2 separate regions of the Homo sapiens genome follow, and region 1 is linked to region 2. The links come from fine-mapping of genetic effects on gene expression. Tissue or cell type: whole blood. Region 2 holds a variant in brackets; the other region holds the start of a gene. All regions are shown on one strand. Distances are between the middles of the regions.

Evidence for each region. PIP is the estimated chance that this variant, and not a neighbour inherited with it, causes the effect.
Region 1: CEP43 starts here. The variant in region 2 is fine-mapped to the expression of CEP43 in whole blood (TOPMed, PIP above 0.99).

Annotation. Positions count from the first base shown.
Region 1 is chr6:166,998,059-167,000,558 of GRCh38, forward strand. CEP43 (centrosomal protein 43) reads left to right here and starts at 1,339. Exons shown (of 13, transcript NM_007045.4): 1 at 1,339-1,456; 2 at 2,002-2,055. The coding sequence starts at 1,355. RefSeq lists silencers at 411-640, 931-1,450, 1,541-1,700, 1,711-1,800.
Region 2 is chr6:167,118,458-167,121,214 of GRCh38, forward strand. It overlaps a transcript of CCR6 not described here. Among named protein-coding and RNA genes, the nearest start is that of CCR6, 3.3 kb to the right of the region's middle. RefSeq lists an enhancer at 548-1,048. The variant G/A (reference allele first, on the strand shown) is at 1,691.

The DNA of each region.
Region 1 (2,500 bases), 120 kb before region 2:
CCGAAGGAGCCTTTCCTGTGGCGCCTGAGCCGAGGGCTTCAGGGAGAGGGCCGCGCATCGCAGCGCAGCCGCCCGTCTTCCCGTGGCTTCCCTACGGCCGCGGCTCCCGCTGCTCCTTTCCGCCGGCCACGCGGGTCGCACGACCTTCCCCTCCCGCCCACCCTGAGGCGCTGAAGCCCTCGACGCCGGCCTCGGGAAAGGCGCGGCCACCGCCCGTTTCGGATTCCCGTTTCCTTCCTCCGGGCGCGTCCTTCACCGTGGCCAAATCAGCCTCTCAACTGCTGGAGCCCGGCCTCGGACACTTCTCGGCTTACGCCGCCATACAGTGGCGCACCCCGAAACCCCGGAACCGACAGCTCGGCTGGCCTTGCGCACCCACACTCTCCAAGGCAGGGCTCGGTCCGGGGGCTGGTTTTGCCAAGGCGAGGGGCGAGGGGCAGCCCAGGCGGCCGGATGGATACCAAGAGGGCGCGTCAGCTCCGGCGGGACGGGGCTTCCAGGGCCCGGGAGGGGTCCAGGACTCCCCGCCGGCGCCTGGCTGTCGGCGGAGGGCCGCGGGGCAGGAGGGAGTGGAGACTGCGGCCCCAGTTCGGGCAGCGCGGAGCCCACCCAACGCCCTCCTCGGCCCTCGGCTCTTCCTGGGGCCATCCCGCCCCTGCACCTCGGCCTGGCACCTTTCCGGTTAGCCTCGGAGGCCGTGGCCGAGCAGGGTGCGTTCGCCTGGCTGGGGGGCCTCAGAACGTTATTTCCGGGTGACAACCTGCAGGGCCTTCCGCCCCTCGCGACCTCTCGGGAGTCCCTTCCCCGGCGCCCCCCCGGGGCTGCAGGGGCTGCAGGTTCGGTCTCGGGGCCTCCTTACCGCAGTCCGCCCGGCTTTAGGCTAGTGGGCTTTAACTACGTCGATAATATGACTCCGGCGATCTTGTGCGGCGATGGGATGCGGCCGTGGGCGGTGGAGTCCAGGCGGAGTCCGCTCTCCACACGCGAGGGCGCCTCCTCCTCACCGCTCGCCGGCTTCAAAGCTCGCGCCTCAGGCGACGGCAGCCAACGGGTTGCCGGCTGGAGGCCCCGCCGACGCCCCGCCCCTTGCGTGCCCACCCGCGCCCCGCAGCCCCGCCCCCAGCGCCGACCCTAAGTTTCGGCGCTCAGTGGTCCGGCGCTCCCCAAGGCTCGGTGTCCAGCGTCAACCCCGAGGTCTCTATGCCCCGCCTCCCGACGCCAGGGGGCAGGGCCAGCGCGCTGCGCGTCGGGGCGGGGCTTTGGCTGCGTCGGCCGCGTAGCCCGCGCGCGGAGCGTACCCTGCTGCGGCCGTTGGCCGTTAGCGCGGCTTCGGCGGTTGTCTTGGAGAAGCAAGATGGCGGCGACGGCGGCCGCAGTGGTGGCCGAGGAGGACACGGAGCTGCGGGACCTGCTGGTGCAGACGCTGGAGAACAGCGGGGTCCTGAACCGCATCAAGGTGAGGCCGGAGGCTGGGGCCGGGCCTGGCGGATCCGCAGGGCTTGCGTGGACAGCGGGCGTCACAACGGTCGCGGCGAGGAGGCCGCCTCCCTGGCGAGGGACCGGGGCCGGCGGGCACTGGGGGCGCGCCCCGGCATGGCCTCCGTCCTGCCCGCCCCACAGAGGGGGTCGGCTCGTTCGTTCGTGTGGTCCCGGAGGGCACCGCGGACTGGGGGTGCCTGGCCCATCCCCTGCCTCATTCCGTGGGGGCGGGACCGCGGGGCTTGGGGGCCACACGGGCGGCCCGCAGCTGGGCCCTGGAGTGCGGCCCCAGCGTCTCTTCCTCAGGCTCGGGCATGATCCGCGGCGGGAAAGCAGCGCGTCCAGCCGAAGCCTGGGGGTCGGAGAGCTTGTGTGACTGAGAACGTTTCGGAAGGCGTTTCTGACCTTTGCACCTGCCCTCCCAGCTCGTTGGCTTGCTCGTGTTTGTTGCTGGATAAATGTGAGCTTGTTGTGAAAATTGTCTTGAAATTATAATTTCCTGTTTCTTAACTTTTTTTTAAGGCTGAACTCCGAGCAGCTGTGTTTTTAGCACTAGAGGAGCAAGAAAAAGTAGAGGTATGAAGTTTCCAGATTTTAACATGGCTGTATTCGTTAATACTTAATTTCTTATTCATTAAAAACCGTCTTAAAAATAGTTTATAGTAACATATAGCTAGGGATAATTTTGAACTGTTAAGGATTACATTACTATTGAGAGAGAGCCAAAATTATTCTTTTTTCGTGTAGCTTTTGAATTTGGGGGTAATCTTAAGGTACCACAGTAACTCTGATACTAATGCTTAATCTGAAACAAATGGTCATAGGAGTTTCTTGAAGAAATGGTGCCATTGTCAATGTGTTAAGTGCAGGTTCACTCAGATCCTTTAGTAAGCTAATATGTTATTAATCCCTATGAAACGGGGTATATAGTATGCAACTTTTCCCAAAATTATCTGACCACTCAATTATTTTGACAATGAAAAAGACAGCGATTATTTTAAAAGTGCAGCCACTACTCTAT
Region 2 (2,757 bases):
ATTTTCTTCCCTCTTAGACCGGTTTCTATAACTGTTCTTCTACGTAGAAATAAATTAGTAAATAAAAAGTAAGCTTTCAGTTTGATTTCCCTATTTCTGTCCCGATGTAAAATTTGGCATCATCTTGATTCCCCTTTTGCTTGTTCCTTACTGATATTTTCCAAAACATCTCCCCACATCATTTTCTCTTCACATGTATCCCAGAAAGGTATGAACTTTTGGATCAGATGACATGGTTTTGAGATTGGCTCTTCAACTTATTGGTGTATGAACTTGAGGAAGTTGCGTTTTTCCTCTGAGTTTCAGTTTTCTCATCTGTCACTTGAGGAGGACTATGACAACCCCAGGGCCCCTGGGCCTTTAGTGAGGATTAATGAAAATGAATGGGTGAAATGGCGAGGGTCAGCCCCACATGCTGGACGCCCTTGGTCCCGGCTCCCTTCTCTACTCTGTGATGTCAGGCAGGGCTGCCGCCAGGAGGAGGGTGCACCTGCCCTGTGACCTGCTCTTCTCCCTACCGTAAACTCGCTCCCTGTCCCTCCACGGCCCACAGACGTCTGTGTCTTTGTATTGCTGCCAGCCTTCCGGTCCTGCAGCCACCCTCCCCAGCTCCCCACTGAGGGCTGGTGCCCCCACCTGTCCTTACTGCTCTCCACCTCGGTGCCTTTCTGCCTCCCCACCCAGGCTCATGCTGTTTGTCCCCAAATTGCCTTCCTCCCCCTGCCTACCTGGTCAGATCTGAGTCGCCTTCCTGGCTGAGTCCCAGCCTTTCACGAAGAGCCTGAAGTCCAGGATGCTGGAGGTGGAGGAGCTCCTCTGTGCTCCCTCCTGTGAACTGGACGCTCGCAGTGGCATTTCTTCACTGATCCGTCACACGTAGGCTCTCTGCATATCACATGTGGCTTGTATTGTCATGTATTTAGGCCTCAACTTTCCAACTATATGAGTTCCCAAAAGGTGGGAAGTAAATGGCATACTTTTAACTATTTCTGTAGCTTGTGTGCTGTACATAGTAACTATCTGAAAAAATGATTCGTATCTGAAAAATAATTTATAACAGGTGTTCTCCTGGCTATTTGGGAGAGTAATTTTCAGGCCAGCTACTTTATGGGGTAGAATAACACAGAGTGACTCCCCATGCCCAAATGTATTAGCATATACAGTGAGCATTGAAGGATACACCATTTGACATCTTCGTAAACTCCAAAATTCAAGGTGTCAGCACAGCTTGTACTTCCTCCTATAAAATGTGTTTTTGTCCCTACTAGAGAATTTGCTGATGTAATTTGTTAAGTAGCCTTTTTTAACTTTTTTATGAAGAAAAAGATATAGATCCAAACCACATAACACAGATCCAAGCACTGCTGGGCTCGGTAGTCTATGTTTTTGCAATGGGTGTGAGCCTGTGGCTGCCTGCCAGCTGTCATTGTTGTAGGTTTCTTCTTCCTGTCCCTCCACTCTCAGCACCTGTGCTAACTCTAGGCTTTCCTGGGGAGGGTTTTGTAAAAACCAACAAATGACGCTTTTATTTTAATTTGTTTTGTTTTTTAAAAACATGTTCATTACTTCAGAAGTTTTGTGCGCACAATGAGAGTAGAAAACTGCCCCAGTTATCTACCACCTTGAGTCATGGTGGCTTTAACAGTGATTTATTTACAATCTCTTGTGGCTCTGGGGGTCAACTGGGCTC[G/A]GCTGAGTGCTTCTCAGTTGGGGCCTCCACTGCAGGTACCATCAGAGAGTGGGTGGGAGCCATGTCATCCGAAGGCTCGATTGGGCTGGGGGACTCCCACATGTGGCCGGCAGGTGGTGCACTGCTGCTGCCTGGTATCTCAGCAAGAATTCCCAACCAGCTCACCATATTGACTTCCTCAAAGTTTATACAGAGTGTTACTTTAGGGGTTAACAAAGCATTTACTATCTTTTCAACTTTGCTGATAATTTCAAAAGATGACTGACACCCAGATGACCAATGTCCACAAAGTGGTGTGCCATGGCCTCCAGTGTGTGTGCTATGGCCTCCAGTGTGTGCAGAGCCTGTTTGTGAATTAAAGGCAATCACAAGGAGAAACGGTCATGGTGACCCATTCTGAGCTGTACACAGTGTCCTCTGTAGGATTGTAGCCAGAGGCAGATGGCTTTCCTAGAAATGCCTCAATGTTGAGTTTTAAAGCAACTCCTTATGACTGTTATCTGAATTTACCAAACTGTCCCTGGCTTTTCTTAGGAATGAACTTCTGATGTTGCTGTGGAATTTTCTGCCTGGAAACTTATTGTTATGAAACATGTGACTGTAAGCCACATTCCTCGCCTTTTATGCACCTCACAGTGTCTATGCAAATGAACAGTGTGATTTTAAATTTGAGGAAGTTTCAATAAGAGTGAGATCTAAGAGGATCTTTAATATAGGGGCATTTTTAGAGAGCTAAAAACCAAATAGGTCTCAGCTTTCTCAGGGTGACATATAATTTAGATTTGACTTGGAACTACAGAAGGAATATGGGGCAAAGGACATGAGAAACATTGCAGAGGTCAGTGCCATATGGAGCTTCCACCTCAGCTCTCGAAGTAAAGGCAACCAGCCCAGGCTGGGAGCCAGTCAGCAGCAGGGTCTCAATCTCCATCCACTACCTTCCCCTCTGGGGCAGGGAGGGTGTTGCAGGGAGGAGGCCACTCTTGGAGACCTCCAGATCCCTGCCTCTGTGCAGTCTAACAGAAGGGGCCCCCACAGTGGCCATGAATCTCTTTGTTCTGCAAGGA